Regions from separate parts of the Homo sapiens genome. Here regions 2 and 3 are each linked to region 1. The links come from fine-mapping of genetic effects on gene expression. A gene starts in region 1. Each other region holds a variant in brackets. All regions are shown on one strand. Distances are between the middles of the regions.

The links. PIP is the estimated chance that this variant, and not a neighbour inherited with it, causes the effect.
Region 2: its variant is the best candidate, but not a certain one, in a credible set for the expression of HMHB1 in lung (TOPMed, PIP 0.74).
Region 3: its variant is the best candidate, but not a certain one, in a credible set for the expression of HMHB1 in subcutaneous fat (FUSION, PIP 0.50).

What each region holds. Positions count from the first base shown.
Region 1 is chr5:143,807,677-143,818,231 of GRCh38, reverse strand. It overlaps HMHB1 (histocompatibility minor HB-1), which reads right to left and starts at 6,071. Exons shown (of 2, transcript NM_021182.3): 1 at 5,928-6,071. The coding sequence starts at 5,964.
Region 2 is chr5:143,889,608-143,900,162 of GRCh38, reverse strand. No RefSeq gene overlaps it. Among named protein-coding and RNA genes, the nearest start is that of HMHB1, 83 kb to the right of the region's middle. The variant G/A (reference allele first, on the strand shown) is at 5,526.
Region 3 is chr5:144,005,110-144,015,664 of GRCh38, reverse strand. No RefSeq gene overlaps it. Among named protein-coding and RNA genes, the nearest start is that of YIPF5, 160 kb to the left of the region's middle. The variant A/G (reference allele first, on the strand shown) is at 5,591.

The DNA.
Region 1 (10,555 bases):
CCCAGGGCTGTCTTACCACTTTGTTATGCTTCTGTTTCCTCTTTTACTATGCCTATTGGAATAATATAGAAGTTCAATAATTTTTTGAACAGAATTGCATGAATATTTGCCACAAATGACTAATGTGTCCTACCTTGAATGCTTCTTTGCACATTAGAGAATTAACTTGTCAATTTCTGATAAAAATCCAGCTGGTATTTGTATTGGAATTGCATTGAATCTATTGATCAGTTTGGGGATATTGCTGTCTTAATATTGAGCCTTCTAATCCATGAATATAATATACTTTTCCACATTTTCAAAGGTCTCCTTTAATTTCTTTCAGCAGTTTTGTAGTTTTCAGCCTAGAATTTTTGCATTGCATTTACTAATTTATTTCTAGGTATTTGATATCTTTGGATGCTACTGCAAATCAATATTGTGAAAATGACCATACTGCCAAAAGCAATCTACAAATTCAACACCATCCCCATCAAAATACCACCATCATTCTTCACACAATTAGGAAAAAACAATTCTAAAATTCATATGGATCCAAAAAAGAGCCCGCATAGCCAAACCAAGATAAGCAAAAAGAACAAATCTGGAGGCATCACATTACCTGATTTCAAACTATACTATGAGACATAGTCACCAAAACAGCATGGTACTGGTATAAAAATAGGCACATAGACCAATGGAACAGAATAGAGAACCAGAAATAAACCCAAATACTTACAGCCAACTGATATTTGACAGAGCAAACAAAAACATAAAGTGGGGAAAGGACACCCTTGTCAACAAATGGTGGTGGGATAATTGGCTAGCCACGTGTAGGAGAATGAAACTGGATCCCCATCTCTCACCATATACAAAAATCAACTCAAGATGGATTAAGGACTCAAATCTAAGACCTGAAACTATAAAAATTCTAGAAGAGAACATTGGGAAAACCCTTCTAGACATTGGCTTAGGCAAGGATTTCATGGCCAAGAACCCAAAAGCAAAGGCAATAAAAACAAAGATAAATAGCTGGGACTTAATTAAACTAAAGAGCTTTTACGCAGCAAAAGAAACAGCAGAGTAAACAGATGACTGACAGAGTGAGAAAAAAATCTTCACAATCTATACATGTGACAAAGGACTAAGGACTAATATCCAGAATCTACAACAAACTCAAACAAATCAGCAAGGAAGAAAAAAATCCCATCAAAAAGTGGGCTAAGGACATGAATAGACAATTCTCAGAAGAAGATATACAAATGGCCAACAAACATATGAAAAAACACTGAGCATCACTAATGATCAAGGAAATGCAAATCAAAACCACAGTGCAATACCATCTTACTCTGCAAGAATGGCTATAATCAAAAAATCAAAGCACAGTAGATGCTGGCATGGATGCAGTGAACGGGGAACACTTTTACACTGCTGGTGGGAATGTAAACTTGTACAACCATTATGGAAAACAGTGTGAAGATTCTTTAAAGAACTAAAAGTAGAGCTACCATTTGATCCAGCAATCCCACTACTGGGTATCAACCCAGAGGAAAAGAAGTCATTATGCGAAAAAGATACTTGCACACACATGTTTATAGCAGCATAATTTGCACGTGCAAAATCATGGAACCAATACGAATGCCCATTAATCAATGAGTGGATAAAGAAACTGTGGTATATATATACAATGGAATACTACTCAGCCATAAAAAGGAATTAATTAATGGCATCCACAGTGACCTGGATGAGAATGGAGAGTATTACTCTAAGTGAAGTAACTCAGGAATGGAAAACCAAATATCATATATTCTCACTCATAAGTGAGAGCTAAGCTGTGAGGACGCAAAGGCATAATAATGACACAGTGGACTTTGGGGACTCAGGGGGAAAGGGTGGGAAGGGAGTGAGGGATAAAAGACTACAAATAGGATGCAATGTATACAGCTCATGTGATGAGTGCACCAAAATCTCAGAAATCACCACTAAAGAACTGACTCATGTAACCAAACACCACCTACTCCACAATAACCTATGGAAATGAGAATATTTAAAAAATATATTCTTGGTAGCAGAATAATATTCTCCCCCAAGATGCTCATGTCATAATCCTCAGAACTATGGCAAAGGATAATTAAGTTTGCAGATGGAATTTAGATTGCTAATCAGGTGACCTTAAAATAGGGAGATTCTTTTGGGTTATCTGAGAAAGCTTAATGTAATAAAAGGGCCCTTAAAAGTGGAAAAGAGGGCTGGGCACAGCGGCTCACGCCTGTAATCCCAGCACTTTGGGAGGCCGAGGCGGGTGGATCATGAGGTCAGGAGATCGAGACCATCCTGGCTAACAAGGTGAAACCCCGTCTCTACTAAAAATACAAAAAATTAGCCGGGTGCGGTAGCGGGCGCCTGTAGTCCCAGCTACTCGGGAGGCTGAGGCAGGAGAATGGCGTGAACCCGGGAAGCGGAGCTTGCAGTGAGCCGAGATTGCGCCACTGCAGTCCGCAGTCCGGCCTGGGCGACAGAGCGAGACTCCGTCTCAAAAAAAAAAAAAAATACAAAAATTAGCCAGGCATGGTGGCGCTCACCTGTAATCCCAGCTACTTAGGAGGCTGAAGCAGGAGAATCACTTGAACCCGAAATGTGGAGGTTGCAGTGAGCCAAGATTGCGCCACTGCACTCCAAATCCAGCCTGGGCGACAGAGCGAGACTGCATCTCAAAAAAAAAAAAGAAAAAAATACAAGGAAAAAAGAAAAAGTAAAAAGTAGAAGAGGGAAGCAAAACAGGAAAGTTAAAGGGATACATTACTTTGAAAAAAGGTTAGAGAGCTGCAACATTGTTAGCTTTAAAGACGGAAGATGGGACCATGAGCAATGGAATGCAGGTAAATCTGTAAGTTGGAAAAGGAAAGGAAAAGGATTCTCCCTAAGAGCCTTCAGCTAAAACCACAGCCCCACTGACACCTTGACTATAGCCAAATAAGGCCCTGATTGGATTTCTGTCCTCTTAACTGTAAGATAATGAATTGTGCAGATTTAAACTACTAAATTTGTGGTAATTCAGTATAGCAACAATAGGAAACTAATACAGAATTAGGGAAAAGTTCAGTAATTTAGGTCTCTGAACTTTGTTAGAAAGGTCAGTTCTCTCTTCTCTTCACCCCTAATCCCTTCATTCATGGAGCTTGCCCCATGGTGACATCCTACAATTTGCCAGCTTTGGGAACAGTATCAGACAGAGCAACATTTGCATTTTTGCACCATCCATGCTGCAAAGCTGAGCAACAGAAAGGTTTGACGGGATAACAAATATCAACAAATGAGAGCTAGGTCAGGAAGAAAACCTGGTAGAAGCCACACAATATTTGTGCAATAGCCACAGGTATTTGTGGGCACAGGTGAAGCACTACTTTGAAGGATAACTTTTAGTGGGGACAAATTCCATTTTGAGAAAGTAGGAGACTAAAAGATAAAATTTTTATAATTATGACTCTATTTGTAGGTGAGGCCAGCTTGGATTATGCTAATAATAAGGTATACACTAATACTGGTTACTTTCTGAAGTTTATGACATAATTTTAAATATAATTAGAGACGATTGAAGATTACCCCTATAATGACAGCATCCTTGCATATTAGTTTTTCAATATCTTGAGTGATAAAAAATGAGGAGGATGTGAGATGTTGTGCTGGGAAGTGCACATAGGCCTCAGACTGTCCTCTCTCTGACAGCTAAGTCCTGAGTGAGCTCCTACTATGAACTGAAACGCAAAAAATGGAAAGAGCATTTGTTGGGGCCAGTGTAAGTCAACTGTTTCCATCCTTATTCCTTAACTCAAAAACTCAAATAAAGAAAGACATTGTCAATTTCATGAGCGGTCCATATTTTTTTCTATTGACGAGAGACAAAGAATAACAAATAAAAGTATTTTATAAGGATATGAGTTATAAAATTAACTTTTTGTTATCTCCAAATTGTTATTTTGCAAGGAAAAAAATATAAGTAACAAATATGAGTATTCCTTTTTTTGGATCCATATTTGGCTGGATGCAGCCTGGACAGGTGTCATGGTTATAGATTATTGTCATGTGTCTCAGTTGTGATTTCAGTATGCTTATTGCTAGTTCTTTTATTTTGCCAATGGCTACATTTTTAATAAAGAAAAAGACAAGGATAGATGAGGAAAATATAGAACATTTTTATCTTCAATGCATGTCAGTAAGAATGATGCTATGAAATTTCAGTTAATAATGAAATTGGAGCTACAAAGACCAAATCATAAATAAAATGAATTTGCAATAGTGTTACTCATAGTAACACATAAAAATATGAAAATATCATGTGCCATATTTGCCTCTGCACTGAGTTATATCTGTACTTCTGCTTCAATACTGTAATTGGCCATCTCATTTCTATTGCCTATGGAGCAAAAGTCTGAAATAAAAAAGGTATGTTCATATTTATTACTTATATTTTTTTCCTTGCAAAATGACAATCTGGAGATAAAAAAAGTTAATTTTATAATTCACATCCTTACAAAAGAATTTTATTTGTTATTCTTCCAAAGGAAATCCACATGCCATTTACTTTATCTCTCACCAATAAAAAAAAATATGGACTGCTCATGAGACTGACAATGTCTTTCTTCATTTGAGTTTCTGAGTTAAGGAAACAAGGATGGAAACAGTTGACTTATGCTGGCCCCAACAAATGCCCTTTCCATTTTTTACTTTTCAGTTCAGCTAACATTTATTGACAGCTTTTACTGTGCCAAGCACTGTGCTAGATGCCAAGGATACAGAAATGATTAAAACACAGTTCCTTCCCTCAAGAATCCCATGCTCTGATGGAGGAGGCGAACAAGTGCTTTAGGCCAAAATGTAAAACTATGAGGGCACCAAAAAGGGAGTGGTTTATTTTGCCTGGAAAGAAATAAAACCTTCATAGAAGAGGTGACATTTGAAAGGGGCCTTGAAGGAAAAAAGGGAAGGTCGGTAGTTGTCTGTATGAAACAATAAAACAGCATAAAAATTCTAAAAGAAAGTTCTGTTTGTATTCTGTGGGCTACCTGTGCAACTGGATCTGAGCATTCCCTGGGGTGGCTGAGGGGGCTGTGTGGACCAGACAGAGCACAGGCTTCCCCGGCCTCATCAGTCCAGGCTGAGTGACCTCCAGTTGCAGGAAGGAGAAAACAGCAGATCCCTTCAGTGCACGGCACCAACACCTCCTATAACGTCAACCCAGGGCTCCGTGTGTCCTCTTCAAGAGGAGAAAACAAGACAAAAAAACAAACAAACAAACAAAAAACACGACAGCAGGGCCTTTCTGCCATTTCCTGGCTCTGAAATGAGGTTAGTGAGTTAAGGAATGAAGCCATCGTGTCTTTATCTGTAAACTGGGGAAAGCTATACCCCCCTCAAGTGCTTCTGTGAGGATGAAAGAGAGAAATGCATGCAAAGCCCCCGGCACATGATCCTAAGAAGTGGGAGCATGGCGATGATGGTGATGATGGTGGCCATGCTAAGGATAAAGGACGGGTCTGGTCTCTGGGCTGCCTTGGGAAGCCTGAGCATCCCACGCGGTGGGCAAGAACAATGTGATCTTGGCTACCCTGGCTCCGACCCAGAGGGACTTCCTGCCCATCTGCACTTCCCTTGCCGTTGTCCTTGTGGCTCAGGTGGTGCAGGCAGCTGCTCCAACTGCTGCCTCTGGTGCCCTGACAGCTGCAGGCAGCCAGGCAATGGGCTATGAAACCGAACCTCAACTGGAAACTATCCGCCCTAAATAATCCCAGCAACAAGGGCCGTCTCACTCCTCTCCCCTGCCTTCCGCCATCCCTGTTTTCACCTGTTGTGGTTTCCCTCTCATTCCACCAGCATTTTCTTTCATTTTCTCTGCCCCTTCGCTGCCTCTTTCCCTCTCTCTCTGTTCTCCCTCCTCCTCGCTCCCTCACCTCTTTTTTCTTCTCTGCATTCTGGCTGCTCCTCCAGTTCTGGTTTCTCCACTGTGGTGTGGCAGAGGATGTGAGGTCAGAAGGCTCAGGGCCTGCCCGGCTTCTGAGATGCGGGGCAAGCCGCCTCGGCCTCCTGGGATGTGGTTTCCTCATCTGCAGAATTGGACCAGAATGACTCTGGAGTGTTCCTTCCGTTCTAAACTCCCGTTCTGTTACATTGTGTTGTGTTAGCCTTTGTGCCTGCTTTTCCTGCTTCAGCTGTCTCATCTGTCCACCTGCCTCTTCCATCTGCATCCCACCACTCGGGTCCAAGCTGCCAGCATCCCTTGCAAGGACCCCTAGAGCAGCCTCCTGCTATTGGAGGTCTCTCTGCTCCTGTTCTTATCCACATCCAATGTGTTATCCACACAGAATCCACAGTGACCTTATCAAAATAGAGATGAGATTGCTCACTCAGCTTAAATCCTCCAAACTCCTTTACACCCCTTTTCTATCATAGGTCCCTGTTTATGTTCTTCAGAGTAATTATTATTGCCTGAAATTATCTTTATTTACTCATGAATTTCTTAATGTTGATGTATCATTTGCTGTCTGTCTTCCACACTAGAATGCAGGCTCCAGGAGTGATGGACTTGATTGTCTCGTTTACTCCATATCCTCACTGGAGGGGCCAGCGCCTTTATTCTCTCCATAAACACTGAATGAAGGAACCTCCCTTTGCCGCAGAATCCATCTCTCCCCTTCTTGAGAGTATTCTCTCCTAACCACACCATTTCTTACTTAGAAATACCTGTGCCTGCCAGAAATCCTGCCCATCCTTCTCTGTCATTTCTGATATAATTCCCCTCATTCACTTTTCTCAGTCAGCCGGGTCCTGTGTTCCCATGGGCTATGGTAAAGAACAATGGCAATGATGAAGCTAGTTCTTCTTTCACTTTAATGTCAATCTGTGCCGTTGGATGCCTTAAGATAAAATAACTTAACAACTCTGAGACTTGAATCTAGTTAATTGTCTTACAATGCTGAGAAAGAGACTTCTTTAAGAAAATATATTAAAACTTCCAAAATTCTGTGCTTGGTTCTTGGGGAGATGTTAGGAGTAGCCATTTTCTTTAAAACACCTCTTTAAAGTAGGTAATGTTAATATGTCCATTTTACAGGTAACAAAACTGGGATTTAGAGAGTGCACAACTGGACAAGGCCATAGAGCCAGAGGTGCATGGAGCCAGGATTTGAATGGAAGAAGTGCAACGCCAGACCCAGGCACCTAGCCACCACATGGGTGACCCTAGTCACCCTCTCACTCCCTAGATTAGATTACTCTGCATTATTTTCACCATAACACTTATAAATACCTGATGCGATCATATTTCTTGTGTCTATTTGCTTCCATTATAACATAAACTCCATCCAGGCAGTTACCATATCTGACCTGTTCACTGCACTTATTCCAATACTTACAATAGTGCCTCATACATAATGGACGTTCAATAAATATTTGCTAAATGAATTAGTTATTTGCATATTGAGGATGAGATATGAAAGAAGGCCTGATAATTCTGTATATAAAACTCCATCTTAGCCAGGCACTGTGGCTCACACCTGTAATTCCCAGCACTTTGGGAGGCCAAGGCAGCAGGATCGCTTGAGCCCAGGAGTTTGAAACCAGCCTGGTCAACATAGACCTCATCCCCACACAAAAAAAAATAATAAATAAAAAATAAAAAATTAGCCAGGCACGGTGGTGCATACATGTAGCCTCAGTTACTCAGGAGGCTGAGGCCAGAGGATCAATTGAGCCCAGGAGTTTGAGGCTGCAGTAAGCCATGATCACTCCAATAATGCACCCCAACCTGGATGACAGAGAAAGACTGGGTCTGTAAAAAACAAAAACCATCTTCTTTGATGATGGAATTTTCTCAAAAGTATCTTCAGTGTTGGCATATCTTTTTCCTTTGAGAATGCATTGGCTTTTTGCAATTAGCCAAAACTGTTAAAGACTGCTTTTTTGTCAAAAAGAACATATGGTCATAAAGCATCATCACTGCTTTTCTTGCCCTGAAATTAGATCTATTTGTGGAGGTGTGGAGGTCTAACTTTCTGTGCTTTGGGAAGCTTATGCACTCTGGTAAGGCCCCTGGACTCTGTCTCAGAATCATCATTTTTATAAGTATAAAAGAAAATATATAGAATTATAAAGAGCCAATTATATTGAATACAGTTATCAAAATGTTAAAAATTGTGACATAGTAACATATTTTCTTCTTTAATAACATATTAAATAAGAAGATCTAAAAATGTCTAATATCAACCTGGGAATGATATTTACAGATATCTGCAAAAACTAAAATGTGTTATGAAAATAACAGAATTAAATTAGACTCAGAATTTTCACTGGTAACAAAAATTTAGGTATTACTATTGCTTTCATAATTAAAGGAAACTTTAACTTTCTATTTTTCCTTTTTTTTTTTTTTTTTGAGACGGAGTCTTGCTCTGTCGCCCAGGCTGGAGTGCAGTGGCACAATCTCGGCTCACTGCAAGCTCCACCTCCTGGGTTCATGCCATTCTCCTGCCTCAGCCTCCTGAGTAGCTGGGACTACAGGCACCCGCCACCACGCCCGGCTAATTTTTTGTATTTTTAGTGGAGACGGGGTTTCACCATGTTAGCCAGGATGGTCTTAATCTCCTGCCCTTGTGATCCGCCTGCCTCGGCCTCCCAAAGTGCTGGGATTACAGGCTTGAGCTACCGCGCCTGGCCAGGAAACTTTAACTTTCATAAAGAGGTTAGTACAAAGAAAGATATAATTTTTCCTGCCCAGATTTACAGGCCTCTGAATCTTATCCACAGACTCCATGGACCCCAAATTTTAAAACCCTATATTAGAGAAATCCAGAATAGGTTCAGCAGTAGCAGCTACATTTAAGTAAGTGTATTACCTCTTAAGGTGACCTTAAACAGGTTATTCTTTACATGGTGTATAAGTTCTGACATACATGGTTATTTTTAAAATTCAGCACCACTTTTAAACCTACTGTAAACCTTTTAAAATTTTAAATTATTTAATTTTAAATTAATTTTTAAAATTAAAGATTTTAAATTAAGTTGTTAAAATTCAGCATCACTTTATACCTACCAATAGCGGGCATAGTTATAATCATTTTAATCTGTTTGCTTATTCTGTATCTACATATATATGATATAATATTCTGAAAACTTTTAATCCTTGACTATTATAAATTTATAAATTTTATTGGTAGATTTTATTTTATATTTTTAATTTGGTCCTCCTCTTTTATCTTTTCTTGTTTATTTTGACCAACATCTCCCTAACCCCTTTCCCAAATTTATTGATTTTTACATATTAATTTAAAACAGTTCATGCAGTCACATAATCCAAAAGTTCAAAAGGTATAAACGTACAGAAAATCTCCTTCTATCTCTGTCCAGAGTCACCTGGGTCTCTTCCTTTAGGGCAACCAATATTAGTTTCTTATATATTCTTTCAGAGATGCTTGAGATATACAAGCTTGTAAATTGTAGCATATTATCCCCATGATTTTCCACGCTCTTTTTTTTCACTTACTTCTATGTCTACAAGTTAATTCTATATTGGTGCCTTAAAACCTTCTTCATTTGTTTTTGTGGCTGCATAGTCTATTGTAAGGATGTATCATAATTATTTAACCAGTCTCTTAGTGATGGGCATTTAAGTTTTGCTATTCGATTTGCTGTTTACTATCATGAAAATTATTTGCTATTAGAAAAAGAGAGAACAGCAAAAAGTATCATCTAAGATTGGAATTTTGTCATGGACACCCACATATGTGGGACTTAGAATCATGAACCCTAAATATAAGTAGGTGGCAAGAGATGTATACCATATAGAGGTTAATATAACATATTGAAAATCACAATATCATGGATAATACCCCAACAGGATAGAGAGGAAACACAGAAACGTCATCAACCCTTTCAGTGGTCTAGGCCAGGTTTAGCATTTTTCAGGACCTAAGAGGGGATAACTGAGGGCAGGTAGGATATCCCCAATTTGACAGGCCCCTTTGGAGGAAGCTTGAAAGTTTCAACGGAGCACATTTGTTTTGTTTTGTTTACTCTGGCTCTCAGGAACAGAGGCTTGAGTTAATAACACTCTTTGGTTCATGGCGCAATGTCATCAGTGGTCCATGGAGGTTCCTCTATTGTGCTTATTTATTCCCCTTAACCCCCATTTCTGTCTTTCATTGCCCCCCTCCCACATCATTCTAAATAAATGTGTTTAATGTGTATATTTTTATGTGCAAAATGGATATGATGATATTTTGTGCATGTGTGTGTATTTCAGATTTACAGCAATGATACTGGATTATAACTAATTCTATTTCTTCTTCCACCTCCACTATGTTGTATGGCCCCTCCGTGTTTCTACACAAACATCTAATTCATGGTCTCTAACTGCAGGGTGGTCACATCCATCACTTTGTATCCACCTGCTTTCTCAGTGAGGGACAGCCAGGGTGCCTCCTGCTCCTTGCCACCAGAAATTAAATTGCAGTTCACAACCTTGTACGTGGCCCCCTCTGGATCTGTGTGAGAATTTATCTGGTGTACATACCTGGGATAGAAT
Region 2 (10,555 bases), 82 kb before region 1:
ACTAACTCATTTTATCCCCCTTTCAAGCTAGGCATGCAACAGACCCTCTCCCTTCCTTCTATTGATGCAACTACAATGTATCTGAAGCACTTTTAGTGCTTGGAAAGAAACAGAAAGTTTATAAAGACACAATTATTATAAATAGTATGGACTTTCTTTCACATCTCTTTGAATATAGATTCTTAGAGCAAATATTGTAAGAATATTAAAAATAAATTTCAAAATCTGTTAGTTTCAAGACAATTCCTCATTCATTCCTAACTATTCCATCTTGTATTCATATTTATGTTTTAATTCAGTTGGAGGCACTCCTTTCTCAACTAAGCCACCTAATCACATGAAAGATCATAAAACCAGTTAGAAGCTCAAATATTAAGAAAGAAATCAAGGTTAAAACATATATGTCTTCTGCCTATCTAAATACCCATAATTACTGTGATGATAGACAGCATTTAAGTGGGATTCTATAAATCAAAAGAAATATGTGCTGTCTTAGCAAATTACTGTGAATAGTCATGTCTAAAACCAAACAAAACAGTGCATTTTAAGCTTCAGTTACCATCTTGTATTTGACAGAAAAAAATCTAAGTTTTCAACTGAGCAAAACTCCTATAGAGCCATTTTTCAAAGTGAAGAATGAAACGTGAACTAAACTTGGAAGGAAAAAATATGCAAAAATAAAATGAAAATGTAAAGTAATTCAGTGTGAGCACACACACACCACACACACACACACACACACACACACACCTCCAGTATCCAGAAACTGTAGATAAGATTTGATCTTCAAACCACACACAATAAAAGCACCAAGCAGTCCTCCTGCATTCTGCTGGAACCCAGCAGAAGTCCTGGATGAAGTTTACTTTTCTGTTTTATTCATTTAAACTATGGCAGACCTCAAAAGGAACCCAGGAAACTGTGAAACCCCTGAACTTGAACTGAAGGAAGCAGGATGAAAAAACTTCTTTCCACAAAGATCAAGAAACGGAAAGAACTGTTTACATAACTGGGTTCAAGCTCTGCTTTATTCTCTGTTCACCCTGCTATCTCGGCTTGCATGCAGCACGCAGGCTTTCATCATGGGCCGTATTCTCATTAACTGGAGTGGCCACATGTGGGGTGAAGTGTGGGGCCTTTGACATAAAGGAGATTGCTAACCTGCTCAAGGTGACCCCTTGCTGGAAATTCATGGCGTAGCCCTTAACATCAACTCATGGTTTGAAAAGATTTATACTGTAGCATGCATATTACAATAATACATGCCAAGAACATAGTGCTTTTGTTGGGGAAAACAAGGTTATCATTGGTAGAAAAGCTCTATTACAAGGCCTTTAAATAGAAGAATATATCTGTCAAATGGAGAGCATGGTCAGTAAACAAGAACCCTTTGGGTATCTCTGTTATCTATTTCAGTCCTGGAAATGATTAGCAAGGAGAGATGAGAAATGAAAAGAAAAAGGTTATAGAGTGTTTCCTAAGCATGAGATAAGTGCTTTATGTGCATATTCTCATTTCATCCCACCACTACCGGAGGATGTGGTAGATTTACAGTAGCCTGTTTTACAAGCAAGGAAATTGAGACTCAGGTCACTTACCCAAATTCACCTGTAGAACAGTGCCTGGCATACAATAAACACTCAAATATTTGTAGAAGGAAGGAAAAGAGAGAGGAAGAGAGGGAAGGGAGATCAGATAAGGAGACATTTATTGTCATCAAAATAACAAATGAGGAAAGTCTAGCCTGGAGCAAGGGCAGTGGGATCAGAGAGGAGCAAACAGATTCATGAGCTATTTGAAGGAATAACATTATAACGTTAATAAAAACAAATACCTATTCAGCAATTTCTATGTGCCAGTCACTGTTCTAAGTGTTTTACTTTTGTTAACGTCTATTAAATTGTACTTATATGAGCTATTTTTTACTTATTATTTATTTTACTATTTTATCCTTAAAGCAGCCCCATGATACAGAGGAGGTCAAGTGTCTTAGGTCACTTTCCCTAGAGACAGCCTCAGATGGGTTTTCTTGTGCAAGCCATTTACTGAGGAAGTGGGAGAAGCAGGGAATCCTACTAGAATTCTAGGTTGTGAATAACACCACAGGCTTACCTGATTTGTGGCGTGGGGGCTGGACATTCACACCCCACATCAGTCCTTGGCTGCAGGCAAGCTTTCGAGCTCAGGCAGGTCTCTGGTCTCAGGTCTCTTTTCAGAACAACTGTGACCTGTTATTAGCCAATGCTTATCATCAACATCATCATCATCATGATTACCACTGAAAGAAGACGGGGTTTGAGAAGTCACCAAGAGCAAGGCAGAAGGGCTGAAGGAGAAAATGAGTAAATGGTGGTCAGGGAAGGAGGCAATGTGAAGAGACCCACCAAAGCTTGACCAACTGTCTGCCTTGCAGGAAACTAGGGAATGAGGCCTGAGATCTATAGGTTCATTCCCTTGGGAAGTTCTTATTCGGCAGAGGAGCAATAAAAAGCTCAGTTCTGCTTTATGACGAATATTTTTACTTTGCAGGGCTCCGAAATAAGGAATCTTATAAAACTTTATGGATATGGGAAGAAAAATCAGAGGGGCTTTGGTGTTAAGCAAGCAATTAAAATATATTCTCTTCAATCTTTTAGGAACCTAATAAGAAATACTAGTGCTCAGAAAAGCATGTTTTGTCCCTTGTTATTAAACTTTGACTAATTTTACATTAAAAAAAAGAAAGGCCCAAAACAGTAAGTTCATGAAATAGTAGACTGCTGATTATTCTGTGTCTATGAATTACTTTTCTTTATTGAGTTTTGCTTTTCTATTTGTTTAAAAGAATTCTGTTTCCTTCCCCTGCAATATTGAAGCAGTTTTGTCTCTGTTTTAATAGAGCATTTACATTTAGATAATGTTCTTCTGCACATTAAGATATGGTCATGGGAAAGGAAAAGTTGAACTTTTGTGCACAAAGCTGACAGTGGTGACTCACCACCAGCAGGCCAGAGGCTCAGAGCTGTTTTTTGAGCAGCAGAGAAATAACCAGCCCAGCCTCCCCAGAACTAAGGGAACTTGTCCATGACATAGATCATCTAGGAGAGGGTGTTTTCATCACAGAAATAATTGATTGTATGGGAATCATGTTTGCAATTTGCCCCCTTTCACCTCCATTATACAAGTTTATAAATGTCAGTCCTACATGAGTTAATTCACCTCCTGGCTGCCATTATCTGAGGCTGAAGAGTCAGTCTGATCAAAGATAAGCCCTCAACAATCATGGCACAAAGAATGGCTTAGGAGAGCTCTCCTAACCCACTCCAAAACCAACCCAAATGATTGGGTTTTTTAGATCCACCCCCACCTCCACCCCACCCTCTGCCCCAACCACATTGCTGCCTTCGAATCCTCTTATTTGGAAATTCTAGAGTTGGAAGCATGCTGTATGTTTTTTTGAAATTTTAGAAAGTGACTCAGTACTACCCTGCCTACAACTGGGTTTTGGAGTCATATTCCTTGTGACTATAGCCTTGAAAGGAAGCAGAGGCAGAATGTCAGCGCATTTTAATTATATAGCATTTCTTTAGCCCTAGAGAGCATCTTTCACAAGTGATTCTTAGTGTGAACCCTTATTTACTTTCTTTCATGGAAGTTCACCTTCACTTTGAAGAAGCTTCCCCATCTTAGACCCATTTCCTTAGATCTGGTATTCAAAAACTCTGGTCAGTGGCTCTCAAAATTCTTAACCTGTGTACAGAAATTCTCCACAGAATTTGCTAAAAATGCAAACTTAGTAGGTCTAGGGCTAGTTTTTAATCACAAATTTAAATTTTAAAAAAATCCCCTGAAGCATTATTGGGAATGTCATTGGGAGTAATGAGGCATTAATGAAAATACTGATTACTTAATAACAATAATTATAATGGTTCAAAAAGGCCATGACACTGATTTGGGGTTATGTGTCTCAGATTTTGCAGCATTTCATAATTAAGCTCTTAGGGATTACTATTTTTCAATAAAGACTTCAGCTATTTTCAGTAGATGACCTATTATAATTTTTATATAATTACTCTGGTCTTTATTTATCATTAACCATTTATTAAGCACTTACTGTGCACTAAGCATTTTATGCCTCTTATGCATTCTATAATTTTAGCAGTCAACCTAAGTGATTCTAATGCAGCAGGTCACAAATTCAGGCCCTCACTTTGAGACACTCTGGTACAATGATTAAGAGTTTAGGGTTCAGCAATCAGCAGATCCGGGTTAATTTCTGGCTTCGTATCTAACTAGCTGAGCATGTTGAGCCAATTACTTAACTTTTATATGCTTTAGTTTTCTCTTCTCTAAGATAGGGATGTTAGCAGTTTCTATCTCACAAGGTCATTAGGTTAAATCAATGAGACTATTAAATCAGTGAGGCACAGTGCCAGGTGACATATAAATGCTCATAACAGTTTACTATCAGAACAGGGATTGGCACTAGTAGGCACTAATAAATATTTGCAGACTGTGAATGAAAATAAATTATATTAACAGAGACAACTTTGCAGGTAGATCAAATGCTCTCCTAAGCCTCCATTACAGGTTGAGCATCCCTTATCCAAAATGTTTGGGATGAAAAGTGTTTCGAATTTGGGATTTTGTTCAGATTTTCTGAATATTTGCATATATATAATGAGATATCTTGGGGATGGGAACCACATCTGAACATGAAATTCATTTATGTTTCATATATACCTTATACACATAGCTTGAAGGTAATTTTATACAGTATTGTTTAATAATTATGTGCATGAAACAAAGTTTGTGTACATTGAACCATCAGAAAGCAAAGGTGTTACTCTCTCAGCCACCTACGGGGACAATCTTTGGTCATTTGGCATCATCATTCCTGACTCTGAATTTATATGCTACTTATAAGCAGTCATTTTTATACACTGATTCACACATAAGAACTTAACAGCAAAAAATATGACATACATTCATACAGTGAAAAATTAATATGTTCAGGGTAACTAAGCAGCACAGTGGCACCACCAGAATGCCTGCATCAGCTGTTCAACAAATGCAACAACAAACAACGCCAGGCTTGCAGTCCCCACCTGCAATGCTGTGTTTTGATTAAAAGATTACTGTACACTGTATTTTATTTTAGGTGAGAAGAAACATCAGGAGCTGATGAGGACCAGGAAGTGGGTCCTCAAGGGATGAGGAGGCATTCTGCTGGGTGTTTCCTCCAGGCTCTTCTGCCTCATTAACAATGTTTCTTGTTTTAGAATTCTCTCTTTGATTTTATAAACTGCCCTGATTTCTTGTTCTGTTTTGAATGCATGCTCCTCTAGTCCTTCAATAAGCCCATCACACATTTTCACTGTATTGTCTATAGGCATTTTCTGCAGTGTTAACAATGTCACTTGCAGCATCATATCAGCGTTCAAAAAGTTTCAGATTTTGGAGCATTTTGGATTTCAAATTTTTGAATTGGGGATGCCCAACTTGTATAAGAAAGGGCCAAAAAGAGAAAGAGGCTGCTTTTGGGG[G/A]CTTTAGAAGTAAGGCTACTCGAGAGAGAAGACACCGAACTGAGCAAATACATTGCTTTAAGAACCAAGATGTGCTCGTTCCAAGCAACTTCAAAACATCAGTGAGTGGCAAAGTATTTTGAATATAATGTGAAAATATAATTTGTAACTCTCTGCTGGAATCAGCAAAGACTAGACTGAAGTAGTGAAGAGGGCTAAAGCAGAATTTTTATATCCAAATTAAAACTAAAAGGAGGCATAATACCATTCATATTAGAAAGAAACCATGAATCACAAATTTAAAATTTAAAAAAATCCCCTGGAGTATTATTGGGAATATCATTGGGAGTAATGAGGCATTAATGAAAATAGTGATTGGTAAATAACAATAATTACAGTGGTTCAAAAAGCACATGACACTAATTTGGGGTTATGTGTCTCAGATTTTGCAGCAGTTCATAATAAACTCTTAGGGATTGCTATTTTTCAATAAAGACTTTAGCCATTTTCAACAGATGACCTATTATAATTTATTCTGGCTTTTATTTATAATTACCATTTATTGAGCACTTACTGAGTGCTAAGCATTTGATGCTTATCATTTACAACAACACTGCCAGACAGTTGTCACCATCTTCATTTTATAAATTATGAATAAAACTCAGAGGGTTATATGACCAATGTGAACTAGAAGTGACTGAGATGTGATTGAAACCCAGCTGTCTCCCAGCCAAGCTGTCCTTTCACAATACTCACTGACTCTTGGTGGTGATTAGTGCGTGTCCTTACCTAGCTAGCCAAGTGGAACCAGTGACCTCTGTGCCACAGCTGGCCTGCCCCACACCATGGCATTCCTCCATAGAACCTTTAGCTTTCAGCTCTGTCTCCCCATGATGATTAATTAAAATAGACAGTTGCCCAGTTTCTACATGGCTTTGGGCAAATTACATAATCTAATTGTTCTAAAGTACGTCTAATGACCCTAAAGATAAAGGCAACAGGAGGCTTATATCTGTGGCCATATTTTGTATTTTCTCATTTATATTACAAAGGAGAGTGAGAAAAATATTTTAACAAGCTTGTTCAATGATATGAACAATGTTAATGGTAATAATGATTAAGATATACTAAGTATTTATGCACCAGGCATCAGGCTAAGCACTTTACATGCAATATCGTATTTAACTCACCTGACACTGTGATGAGGTATTACCTCTATCATAAAGCTAAACAGATAAAGATTCAAAAGCTCTAATTGATGTCACCAATGACTCATAAACTCTAAGTGGCCAAGCCAGGATTGGAAACTAGGACAAAGGGGTCCATGGCATTCTAGGCAAGCCAGGTAACACAAATGAGTAAACACAGTCAGGAAGGGGCCATGGCAAATGTCAGAGCACATGTATGTTTTCAAGAATGGCTACTCAGTGCCAGCATTTTGAGGCTGTGTGGCAATTGTAGGCCCCAGTCTTCTGATGTTTTGTAATATCTGACTGGATGTAAAATCTCCTAATTTATAAACGTTGGCATCCATTTAATCCAAATGTGTTTCTTTAAACATTTCAAGAACCCAATAAACACATCTGTAGGCAGAGTGTGGTCCTAGGCTTCCTGGATGCCACTTCTGATTTAGAGCCTGTGCTCTTGGCCCTCAGGCTATTGGAGCTCCAGCGTCTCCTTAGGTCACCTTTGTGAATAGTCCTTTCCAGGTCTGTCATTCTTAGATCTATGGCTTCATCTTCCTCCTTGGTTCTCAGAGCTAACAGAAACAGCAAGGTAGAAAGAAATGCAGAGCAAGACAGACACAAGTTGGCAAAGGCAGAGGTTCAGTATATAGCTTCAATAAATATAACATCATTCCCAGAACTATCTTCCCGGGAGCAACCTTCCACTGCTCTGGGCCCAAGACTGACAAACATTTGCATGTACAAAGTTATAGAGCCAACTTTTTATTAAAAGAAATATATGGTGCCCTTTAGGGGTTACTTGCCTTTTACTTGGGAGAGATTAAACAGGTACACTTTCACAGGCAGAATTCCTTCAAAGTTTGGGAAATAAGACCATATGTGTGGTGCCCTTGAATTTTTCATTTTTTTCTGAAAGCCATCTGCTTCCTGTTATCCTGATGTGCTCAGTCATAATGGCAGTGTTGTAGCATGGAAATTGGCTCCATCCAGGTTTCCATATTGGTATCCAAAAATTTGTTTGTTTCAATTGACAGGCATCTCCCCTTAGGGATTCTCCCTAAGACAGCTGGGCTCACTGCCTGCCTAATCTTCACCCTGTCTTCAAAACAGATGAGGGAAGATCCACAGGCTGAGAAAGGCTAAGCAGCAGCACTTCGTGCATTTATTCCCCTTCCCACTCATGTTTATTAATATCTGGGCAGAAATGTGACAGTGAGAAGTTTTGATGCACACAGGAGGATGGCTATAGCAAGCGAGCAGTTTAATATAGTACCAACCAAGTGGGCTGTGCTGTACACAGGAGAAAAAGGAATCTTAAGTCTATTTTGCAAAAAATAACTAAATGCTGGTTTGAATCAGCAAATAAGCTACAAAATAATGTAGAAAACTAAGAGCTATGACAAAACATACTCTAAGCCTGGCCTATGGGATTTATAAATGCCATTTCTTTTTGGAAAGTTAAGGGTTCTTTGGTGATTGATAAATACTATTTGAGAAATAGGATTTTACTAGATCCTTAAAAAATCTGTAGAATTGGGAGAAATACCCTTGAAATGTACAGCAGTGATTTTATGAGTAAAAGGGACAAAGGTATCAGTCTATGACTATCCACAACCTTTTCCCCTCTTCCCTGTCTGTGAAGAAAGTTTGGATTTTGCCTACTCTTTTCCTTCCTCATCCTACCTGGAGGGTTCTTCCATTGGCCATGCTAAGTTAAGAGACTAGATGCAGAGAAAGACAGACAGCACAGAGGAAATATTGCTCTCTGGAGAACCCTAGGTCACAGGGGAAATAACATGCTGAGAGTCCATTGTGTGGGAAGGCAGAGGAGGAAGAGCGACAGGAGATGGCCTTCAAGTGGGATGACAGAGGTTGAATGGGTGAGACCAGGGAGGTGGTTCTGGAGTAGAGAGTGAGAGGGTTCCAGGAACTTCTAAGTCCACGGGAGAAAACAGCTTATTTTAATCCTATTCTCATTTATGTTGCTTGAGAATACCACAACTCATCAGAATTCCTGTTTGGATAGTGTTTACATGTCAAGTTTCTCATGAACTGAAGCACATGGGTCATAGCTTTAATAGGGTTATGACTGTCAATGAGTTTGCCTGTTTGCTATGCCTTTCCCCTCTATTTCCAAAGGGACAAAGAAACTTAACACAGAAGCACAAAGACATGTGACTTTGTTTTCTCAGGCGGGGTAAGGGACCTTTTCAATAAATATGACACTGTTCCCAGATTTCAGAATAATCTGCCTCAGGAAGCTGGAGGTCAACATTTAGTGGTGCCTTGAAGGAGTTTATTATGATCTTATCAGGGGGACAGGCACCTGTGTGACTGAATATGGATTGATATTTGGATTTTCTCTACAACTCTTATTCATTCGTTTAATCAATAAATATTTACTGACTACTCACCAAGTCTCAGGCACATGTTCCTGGCTCTGAAGATATTGTAATTAACAAAACCAATGAGTACCCATCTCTCACAGAGCTTATGTATCTTTTTAAACATATTTCTTTCTAATAAAAATGCTCCCATTAAGTAGGCAAAGAAATGTGAGTGGCAGATTATAAACTTGTTATTTAAGTCACTTGGGAAATTAAAATCATGCCTCAGAATCCCCCTGCTATGGGGAATAAGGGTTATGCCAAATATTTTCTTTTTTATCCATTCAAAAATAACTAAATTCAAAGGGAATTAAGAACACTTATCCTCAGCTTAACAGAGCCTGGCATACTTTCAAGAATCACAAGGAGGCAGCTGCAGGGTCAATAATACAGGCAGAGGGCTCTATCGGCCAGAGCTGGGCCCCATCTGAGGCACTGCATGTTTGGGCAAGTTGTATAACCTCTGTCTTGGTTCTATCACCTGTCATATGGAGTCGATTAGAGTACCTATCTCATTAGGGTTTCTGTGTGGACAAAATGAGCTAAGTTGTGTGAAGTGCTTAGTTTAGTGCATATCGGAGAGTACACTGTTATTATTATCCATTCTTATTATTTTGTTGCCTTGCCTTTAAAGAACGGGCTAGAGGAGCTCAGCTCTGTTTAAGTCTAAACTCTCTTTACAAAAGAAATGAATAAAAAGATGAGAAAGACTTACTGACAAGTGAAGAGATAGAATAAGCAAATCAAATAATGATACGTAAGAGTGCTGGCAAGTCTGTACAAGATTTAGAACAAGAGCAGACCATGAGATTTTTCTACATAACGTATCTGTGTCTATGTCTCTCTCTCTCTGTCTCTGTGTGTGTGTGTGCGTGTCTGCATAAGCCTAGGCAGCTAAATTATTTTCAGTAAACCACAGCTAGCTTTCTGATGACATTGACAAGCTTGCAACATCAAGGAGGCAGCAAGAATCCACCAATGCTGGTTCTGTGTTCCAGGAGCTGTTTCCAACTCTGAGAAAGTCCCCTGATGGAACAAATTATAATTTAAGTGGCATAAGCAAGCAATGCAAAATGCCAGTGTCAAGCCATTGAGGTTATTTCCTAGGCAGAGGGCTCATTTAACGAAGAAGCACATGACGTGTTTACTCCAGAGTCTTTTCATTGCTTGGATCAGCATCTAGGCTTTCAAGCAAAATTTTCTCCTGTTGTGTTTCGGGTAGAGGAGATGGGGGCAGACATCAGTCATTCTAATTCCCAAATTTGTCTCCAATCTTTTTAATAAGATTATTGACAGAGGTTTAATTCATCCAGCAAAAGGTTAGTCTGAGCGATCTCTAAGACAGTCTTGTGCTGGCATTCTCTTTTAAATTGTTGTTCCATCTTATTCATCTTAGTGATGGCCTCTTTCATTTTGAGGCAGAATTTGTCTTCATGCTCTGTGCCACTCTGTATACCAATAGGAGTCCAGGGAAAAG
Region 3 (10,555 bases), 200 kb before region 1:
ATATTGAAAATGGTGAAATCTACCAAAATGTATTTATAAGATAAGCATGTTTAAGGAAGATGTCTTGGTCAGTGGAACAAGATAGGAAAGCATGCAGTTTCCAGCCTTGTTTTTTCCTCCATAACCCAACTCAGAAATATCGATTCTTTTTAACAGCATTTGATTCTGATGCAGTTCTGAGTGCACATTCAGAGGCAAAGGCCATGTCTACAAGATGCAAGTCATCCAACTGCAGAAGTAATGGCTCAAGGCAGGTTATTAAAGCAGCCTTGAAATCCAATCTGACCAAAATTGGACCATTAGTCAATGGTGAAATGTGATTTAAGAAGTCTCTTGAAGAGCCTAAAGATTGGATGGCTTGACTATTTGCAGCTTTTCTTCTTTTCCTTTACCATTGTAATATGCTGCTTTGTGTATGTGTGAGCCCACGTGTGTTGTGACTCTACTATATTTCGAACCCTTTTCCCCCAGCCTTGAATCTCCTGTTTCCTTAAGGAGAGTGTCTTGCATTTATATGGAATCCACCAACAGTTACTAAAATTACTTCAGTGGTTGTGCATAGGTGACTCTCGTTGTGCCTAAATTATGCCCTAGATTATGCATCTCTGTTTCTGTTAAATGAAATCAGTCAGATCAGTTAAAAGAAAAATCAAACATCACATAGACATAGCCAAAAAGTTGATTATGAAGCAAGCCATTTTAATATGATTACATCAGATTTTTTTTTCATTTTTACCCTTCTTTTTTTTTTTTTTTTTTTTTTTTTGAGACAGAGTCTCCCTCTGTCACCCAGGCTGGAGGTGCAGTGGCACGGCCTCAGCTCGCTACAGCTATTTTAAACCACTGCTAAAATTGGAGAGTCCCCTTAGTTTAGTTAGCTGGAAAGAGAATAAGGCTATGTCCTCTTCAGCTGTCACCATGAGGAGAAGTATTGGCTGCTGAATGGCAGCTGCTCTAGAGGGATGTGGTAGTGGAGCTGAGGGATCACCCAGCTGGTCGAGAGGCACAGGGTGGCAGTATGTATCCTCTATTCTGGCTTCTACCACAGGCATCAGTGCAGGCTCATGTTTAGCATTAGAAAAGCTCGTGTTCAGTAAGCTACCCACCAGCTCCTAGACACTGGTTTCAGACAGACTAGCTTGAGATTTCTACATTTTATGGGCCAATAGCAATGATGATTTTTTCCTTTCCCTCAGTCGCTTCCCGAGGAACTGGCCAGAGTATCTTTTCATGCCCTGAAACACCAAAGATCTGATGCAACATCCTTTCCTTGGCCTGGGAGCCACTTGCTCATCTTCCTGACACCTACCCTTTTAAGGAGTTCTGCCTTCAAGATCTTGTTAAATTAACTTTTGCCTAAAGCTGCCTGCCTACATGTATTAAGTGTGGCCTAAAGGTTTCTTCATACATAGTGAACCGTAATCTGACTTGATGTATAAACACATTGTAACATACTCATAACAAGTAGCCCAGTCTCAGGCAATTGCAGATAGCCAACTGTTCAAACCTGGTTTAAATAAGGCAAACATCCAGCTATAGCCAGTCCAACTGTTTATATACCTTACTTCTGTTTTCTATCTATCAGTTTTCTTTTTCTGTCCATTAAGGTTATCTGACTATGTAGCAGCCCCAAAATCACTCTGAACCTATTCTGGTTCTGGGGGCTGCCCAATTCATAAATCATTCTTTGCTCAATCAAATTCAGTTGTGAAATATGAGCTACAAAATAAAATTACTCTGGTTCAGAGGTCTAAAGTGGAATCAGGAAGCCATTCTAAGAAGGGCTATTTGCACAATCTCCACCTTGCAAAAACAGAAATTCGCCTCGAAACTTTGAATTGGGCCAAACCCGCACACCCAGAATATCATGAAAAATAGCTGACTTTTGTTACTGCAGCAACTCCTAAATAGCAACAAGCAATGAACTATGGACTCATGTACTAAGCCAGCCACATCCACCAATGATAATTCTTTCAAAACAACTTTTAAAACAACAACCATGTAATCACCATCAGCATCCCTTTGAAAATCCCTACTCCCCTTCATCTCCTCAGAATACAATTTGGCTTTAAGCGAAATCTATGTCTCTTCAATTGCAATTGCTAAGACCCCAACAAATGCCTTGTGTTACTGCATTGCAATCTGGTCTTTTGTCTCTTCTTAGTTGACACTGTTAAATTTAATTTGCATAAAGTTTTTGTTTTGACAGATGGTGTCAGAAGTGGGATTCAAAGTAGAACTTCCAACAACTTCCAGGCACATGGAGTTATCAAAAGAGGTACATACCAAGCCCATTATGTCCATTGCTCTCTTACAGCAACTAGAGATTGTAGGTAAGTTGTCTCACAGATTCAAAAGCTCTATGAATTTGTATTTTGAGCTATCTGACTTTGTTTGAGCAAATATTGGATCTAAACTGGGTTTGGAAGTCACAACAGAAACTGGACTGGGTCCAGAATCAGACTGAGTCCAGGATCAGATTGGTTCCAACAGTTAACTGGACTGGATCCGTTTAGAGGCCTCAGATGTCTGATTGAGTCAGACAGAAGCTGGCAGGGATAGATGAAGGAGGCAGATAAGGGAGAGGGTCCCCAGAGAATCTCTGACCCACCTGTGTCCTGGGAGAACAGGGTGTAGCCATGGGAAGTTCACGCTTTGTGCAGCAGGGAAGAGGCTGGTCTCTTCAGCAATGTGTGGTGGTCTGGTATTCAATCTGTGAGGTGGAGGGCCTGTTAGCAGGACTCTCTCTTACTTTGCTGAGACTTTTTTTTCTTTTCACCCAATAAATTCTCTTCTCACCCTTCAGTGTGTCTGTCCACCTAATCTTTCCTACTCATGTGACAAGAACCTGGTTTTAGCTGAACTAAGGAGCAAAATTCTGCAACAGCAATAAATGGCAATGACTGCAGGGAAGTACAAATTCTGGCATTCAGAAATTTGCAGGGATTTTTGTATTCTATTTCATTTGTTTCTTTTTCTTGTACACTTAGGTCAGGAAAAATTCTTGACTAAGTTGAGCAAGAGGATCTGACAGCTAAAGCCTAGATTCAACAAAACAATGAGATCCTTAATTTCTGAAGAATTGAGAACTCCACCTTCTGACTATTACCTTTAAATGTAGAAATATTAGGCCCCAGAAGCTGCAAACACTTACATAAATGGCAAAAGCTTATGAAAGATAATTTAAAGTTACAATAGAATGTTCCAAATTAACACTGCAATTTAAAAAGTTCATTTAAAAATGAGGGCTCCCGAATTAGGCTCACCCAAGGATGCCTAGCAATATGAAGAAACTTCTGAAAAAGTTCAGTATTTGAATTGCCTGTTTTTTTTCTTTCTTTCTTTTTTTTTTTTTTTTTTTTTTTTGAGACAGAGTCTCACCCTCTCGCCCAGGTTGGAGTGCAGTGCAGTAGCACAATCTCGGCTCACTGCAACCTTTGCCTACTGGGTTCAAGCGATTATCCTGCCTCAGCCTCCTGAGTAGCTGGGATTACAGGCGCCTGCCACCATATCCAGCTAATTTTTGTATTTTTTGTAGAGACGGGTTTTCATCATGTTGTCCAGGCTAGTCTCAAACTCCTGACCTCAGGTGATCCACCCACCTCAGCCTCCCAAAGTGCTGGAATTACAGGCATGAGCCACTGCACCCAGCTGTATTGCTTCTTTTAAAAGACTCCTTTAAAAGGACAAGTAAAAAGCTTAAGCTAGTAATTAATAGGAAAAATTGAAGCTGCTAAACTTTTGACTTAGTTACTATTCCACCTCAAAGGCGGAAAGAAAGCTAGGTAAAATGTTTATAAAAGGTATGGCTCCAGGTAAATTAGGCTTGTTTCTTTTTGAGAGCCATCTGCTCTGAGTCCACCCAGAGAGAATGCTTTCTTTGCTCTATTCTTTAATGGTCTGAAAAGAAATAAAAACTCAGTTAAAAAGACCTCCTACTGAGATAAATCAGTCTCCAAAATACAACTTTCACTATTTAGCCATTTTGAAAGCCTTTTGCAAAAGAAATTTACATTTACAAAGTAAATCTCCATTTGTAAGGTGTCTGCCTCTGTGCAACAGGAAGAGAAAAAGGAATGTCACCAGAAACAATAACAATGAAAACAGCATTGGCTTAAATTTACATAACAAATCTTACCTTTGTCTAAGGTGGCTTTCTTGGCTATCTTGTCTTAACTGGTCTTTTACCTACACTCTCCTTCCTAGGTTTGGGAAAATGATGATATTACATTGATGTCTCACCTCTGTGCCATTGAGATGTAAATTTTCTACCTTGTTTTACCTAAGCCATCTGTTTTGAAATACAAATGTAGGGTGAAAATTTTTAGATAGTTATTAAAAATGGGATGCAATATGAGGGTAATAATTTTAGATGGTTATTAAAAATGGGATAAATAAAACAGACAGCAATAGGGTTAAAACAAAGATGGAATCTACTGAAGGCTAGATTGGTCAAAGAGATACCTACTAATCCCCCAGCATTATAGAACTCCACACAGTCTGTCCTATTTACTTCAGTTGAGAGAAATTTAAAAAGCTAAAGACAGAGATTACAATGAGCAACCTAACTAACAATCACTTAGGGAATAATCATGCAGGTCAATCAAGAAAAAGGCCAGAGTTGTTTCACTTCACCCCTTTCTAAAATGGGTACAATGGTCAGTGGGTGGAGAAAAATCTTTAGAGTAAATTGTTTTGGGAAAAATTGAATGACCCTTTAGAAGAATGAGTAATGGTTTGGGATAATGTCTACTTGATGTGACGAAGTGTCTTCTACTGTGATGAAAGTTAATTTTTCCTGGTTACTGAAACTCCCTGGGGAGAGGATTGAGGACATTTGTGTTCCTTTGAAAAATTCATCTTTAAGAAAAATAAGGAGAATTTTTAAAGCCTTTTCCTTCTTCCCTATTGGTAGCAATAATCTACTAAGTCACTATATTTAGGGATGATATTTCCTAAATTCCACTAGCTAGTTTTAAGGGAGGAGACCACCTCTCATATTGTCTTCTGCCTAATTTCTGCCTCTAAGGAAAGAGAAAGTAGGAGTTAAAGAAAAGGCAGAAGTGAAATTCAATAGAAAGACAGCCTGGTGCCACACTCCGGGCCTGGTAGTTAAAGATCAACCCCTGACCTAATCACTTATGTTATCTATAGATTCCAGACATTGTTGAGGAAGCATTGTGTAACTCCCTGTTCGGTTCAGTTCTGTTCTGATCACTGGTGCGTGCAGCCCCAATCACATACCCCCTACTTACTCAATCAATCATGACCCTTTCACACGGACCACTTAGAGTTGTAAGCCTTTAAAAGGGGCAGAAATTTCTCCCTCGGGAGTGCAGTTTTTGAGATGTGAGTCTGCCAATGCTCTGAGCCGAATAAAGCCTTTTCCTTCTTTAACTTGGTATCTGAGGGGTTTTGTCTGCAGCTCGTCCTGCTACAGTTTTGTTTAGTAAGAAATTTAAGGGACAGGCTCACACCTGTAATCCCAGCACTTTGGGAGGCCGAGGTGGGGGGGTGGGTGGATCATGAGGTCAGGAGTTCAAGACCAGCCTGGCCAGTATGGTGAAACCCCGTCTCTAATAAAAACACA[A/G]CAATTAGCCTGGCATGGTGGCATACGCCTGTAGTCCCAGCTATTAGGGAGGCTGAGGCAGGAGAATAGCTTGAATCCAGGAGGTGGAGGTTACAGTGAGCTGAGATCATGCCACTGTACTCCAGCCTGGGTGACAAAGTGAGACTCTGTCTCAAAAAAAAAAAAAATTAGGCATAATTGTTAAAAATGAGTAAATTATACAAAAGTAAAGGACATGAAATTTTATAAATGAACTTGTTATTTTTTTAAAAATCTTTTTTTAGAAATTAAAAATCTTAAAGTCATGTTAAGCTAAATAATAGATACTCATTGAAAGTCTGACTCGTTTATAAGTGAGTTAAAATACTGAAACAATTATTAAGCATAACCTTAAGTTTATATATTTCAACACTTTGTTTTTATATGATACAGAGAAACTAAATATATTTAGGATTGTTAATAAACCCAAAAATAATTTTATGAGGAAATATGTTTCAAAAAATTATGAAATGGTTCTCATCAACAAAATATTGATATACAACAGTTCAAAAATTCTAACTTCCTAGGATTTCACTAAAAACTAAGGTACTAGAGTTTTTAAAAATTTAATTAATATAAGGTAACTAAAACAACATCTTGTATCAGGAAAGTAAGACACATTTTTGGTAAGTGAAGCTTACATAAAATATATGTTTTAGATAAGAGAAAAAAAAAGTAACTTTGTCCTAAAGTAAAATGACTGGCTCTTCCAAAATGAGGAAGAGAAAAGTTTGTAGAAGGTTTGTGAAACAGGAATCTTGTGAAAGAAATTGTATGTATGATCAAGGTGGCTAAAATTAGATGGGAACTATTTATAAGGTTTTCTAAAAATTGAGGATTAATAACAAAAGTACACTAATACAAAATTAGAATTTGGCTTTCTCTTTTAAACAAGATTTTTGTGTAACACTGAGAAGAGATAGTAAAAGATTTTTGTTCATCTTTTGAGTAAACTGAAATAAAAGAGGGGCAGGGGAGAAAGAAAAAGATATTTTTTGTGCTTCATGCTGTCTTTATTAGGTCTTTTGATTGTTAGAAAAACAGTATTCTTTCTATCAAAGAGTAAAGGTTTTTGCTTTTTTAGTTATCAGTTTCATGAAATCAATGACTATTATTTTACAATGACCTGTGAACTGATTTTGATAGTGTTATAAACCTTTGACAAATTTGACATGCTTTCCAAAATCAAATTTCAAATTCTAAAAATAAGTCTTTCTGACTTCAATCTAATTTGGGGATATCCCAAAGGGCCTCTGAAGCATCCAAACAAGAGATAATTTGATATATTAAATCATATGGGAAGCATTATTAAATAAGAAATTACATTTAACCTTCTTTGAGTTATATTTTTATGGATATGTTATAAATATGTGGTCAAAAATTGTATGCAGTTTCTAAAATTTTGAGATGTCTTGGTATATGTTATCAGTCATAATTATGGTTATTATGTTAAATTATTATGGGCTACAGGAATAACCAAATTTACTTGCCAATTGTGTCTTTAACCATGACTATTTTAAGACTTGTTGTCCACAGTTAATTGCTTAATTCTGATGCTTTTTTCTGAAAGTTCTTTACTAGCAATTATAATCTTGAAGAGTTGAGTCTTCCAAAAGGTTCATGGAAAGTTTGGGAAGGACCATGACAAGTACTATTGAATACAGATTTCTGATAACTTTAGGTTCATCTCATTTGGACTTGGTAAGAATTTCCAGAACTCTAATGAAGAGGCTGACTCATTTACAAAACTACTACCCCAAGCAGAAAAAGAATTAATTAAATACAAGGGAATTCTTTGGCAGATTTTCATGCTAATTCAACCAGTACTGAAATTGTTAAGATATGCAATTTGCATGAACTCCATGATCCAAGTCACATAACCTATGATAACCCACTTAATAAACAATGTTGTACACCTGAATTGGAGAAACAAAAATTGTATTTAGGAGGATTTAAATTCAGTGTCAAGCATGCACTCATGGAGAGCCTGGATGGCCATCTGGTCATCCTTTCTGCATCCTTAAAATTTCCACTATTAAAAGCTTTGCATTCCATGACACATCATAGAAGAGAGAAAATAATCCAAATTTTGAAAAAGAAATGTTGGTGTGGTGACTATTTTAAGTTGCCAAAATGGTTTATGAGCACGTTTGTTTTCTCAAACACATAATCCAGGGAAGACAATCAAACTTCAGGTACATTTCCACTGCTGAATGGGCAGTTTGAACATTTATGGAGGGATATCATTCAATTGCCATTTTTAATGCATGTTTTCTGGCTTCACAAAAGCTTTCCCATGTAGGAAAGTTAGTGGTACAACAGTAGCTAAAAATTTATAGGAAAATGTATTTCCCTAATGGGACATTCTTCAGTGATCACAGTACTTGTTTCACTGGAAAAATTGTAAAAGAGTTAAATGAGTTATTACAGACACTATAGCATTAAGCAAATATAACTGAATTGACTGTATTGCCTTGGTCAAAGATATTGCAGATGGAAGACAATCTGATTCACTTCCAGTGGAAAGCATAAATTAACCCCTTATTAAATAGTCACTAGAAGGCCTATACTCCTAATAGTAGATCCTCATGTATCTCCCACTCTCCTATACACTGATATGACTAAATGTTGCAAGGTTTTAATGCATTATGCCAAAGTATATTTTCAACAGGTGAAGGAATCTTTTCATGCTCCACCTACTAAGGACAATTGAACCCTTCATAATCTAGAACCTGGATGCTGGATCTTCTGGAAATGGCATCAGAGAAAGATTGCCCTTGCCACCCATATGGCAATGAGACTTTGGAACTTCAAAACTTGGGTTCATAATCTTACAAAACAGAAGGACCTTTTAGACTCTTGGAACTGTACACTCCTTCAAGACCTTAAGGTAAAGCTAAATAGGGAAGTTTCTCTTCAAAAGCAGATGGCATCCTAGACATACACAGCTTTCCCAAGATCACAGATCAAGACTCCTCTGCCATCATGAAACTCTTAGCTCTCTTAATCTTTTACTTGCTTATGCCTCTATGAACAATAGAACTTGAAAACGGGCCTTGTGTCCACCCACAGGGTGTACTTTCTTATAGAGGATTTTTCAGCCAGTCTTATACATGGGTAATCTTAAGCCTTGATGAATGGAAGATGAAGTGTCAATGTAGGTGGGAAATTTTAATAGTAACTTTATTACTCCATAATCAGTCAGACACCATAATCAATCAGAAACAGAAAGTTGGCCCACACCTGTTAAACTACATCATAGGTTAAAAAGAACATTTCCAGATGGCTTCACTCTTCTGGATGTGTATCATTTGTTAGGTCCTTTTTTCCATTGCTTGGAGTAACTACAAATAAGGCAATAATTAGAAATTTATCCCTCCTAAGAGGCTCCATAGCAGGTTCTACTACAAAGATTATGGTTGTACAACAGACTTGTTAAAATTATTTTGCTGAAGTTGAGTTATAATAGAATTGCTCTAGATTACCTACTCGCTGAACAGGGAGGAATATGTGCAGTTGCTGACACTTACTCCATATGGTTGAATATATCAGATATTATAGAGACTCAGTTGCAGAGGATTAACCAATAGGCTCTCTGGTTAAAATGTGTAGACTCTTCATTCAGCTCATTCTTTGAATCATTTTATTTTGATTGGTTCGATTTATAGAGACCCTGGGTAGGGAATATACTTCAAACTATTGTTGTTATTCTCCTACTAATCACAGTAATAGTCTCCCTGGTGTTTTATATTCTCTCAAAAGTTTTAAATGTTTGTATGCAGCCATCTGTAGAATACCAAATGATCTCTTTGACTGGAATAACCCAAACTTAAATGCATGATTATGTGGACACCATAACCTATGAATGACATGTTGAGACTGGAATCCCAAAATTATGGTAACTGAGAGTAGTACTGAAGCTCTAGATTTTTGTCATACTCTCACATAGGTAAAAACTTGACCTAAAGAGGGGATTATTAAACAAAATTATGAGAGGCCGTTGTTTGGGATTGAGCTCCTTCACTAGACCCCAAAAAATAAAGCAAACTGACATGGAATCCGTATTAGTTCATTTTCATGCTGCTGATAAAGACATACCCGAGACTGGGAAATTTACAAAAGAAAGAGGTTTAATGGACTTGTAGTTCCATATGGCTGGGAAGGCCTCACAATCATGACAGAAGGCAGGGAGGAGCAAGTCACATCTTACGTGGATGGCAACAGGCAAAAAGAGAGCTTGCACAGGGAAACTCCCATTTTTAAAACCATCAGATCTCATGACACTCATTCACTATCATGAGAACGGCTCAGGAAAGACCTACTCCCATAATTCAATCACCTCCTACCAAGTTCCTCCCACAACAGGTGGGAATTGTAAGAGTTACAATTCAAGATAAGATTTGGGTGGACACACAGCCAAACCATATCAGAATCACTCATGCTAAGTGCCACATATTCAAACTGAAGCTTTAAAAAAGCAGATAGATTCCAAAACTGATGGAAACTAACACCAAATATTTGTGAACTCCAAACTGAGATGGAATAAGCCCATTTATGATAATAATAGTGATGTTGATGCCTAAAGTTTTTGTCAATCTTTCAAAATTGAGAATTTGACCAAAAGGAGAAAATTGTTAAGCTTGACCTAGCAGTGCCTAAATATTTTAAGTTTGGCCTAGAGATTTCTTCACACTTAGTGAATGTAATCTAACTTCATGTGGAAATACACTGTAACCTACTCTTGTAACAAGTAGTTAAATCTTAGCCAATCTCAGCCAGCGAACTGTTCAAACCTGGTTTAAATAAGGCAAATACCCACCTGTAACCAATCCAGCTGTTTCTATAGCTCACCTCCATTTTCTGTAAGAAGTTGGTATTGACATCTTGGACAACTTGTTTAGCTTCTCTGTGCCTCAGTTCACTCATCCTTAAAATGGGACTGGCAAA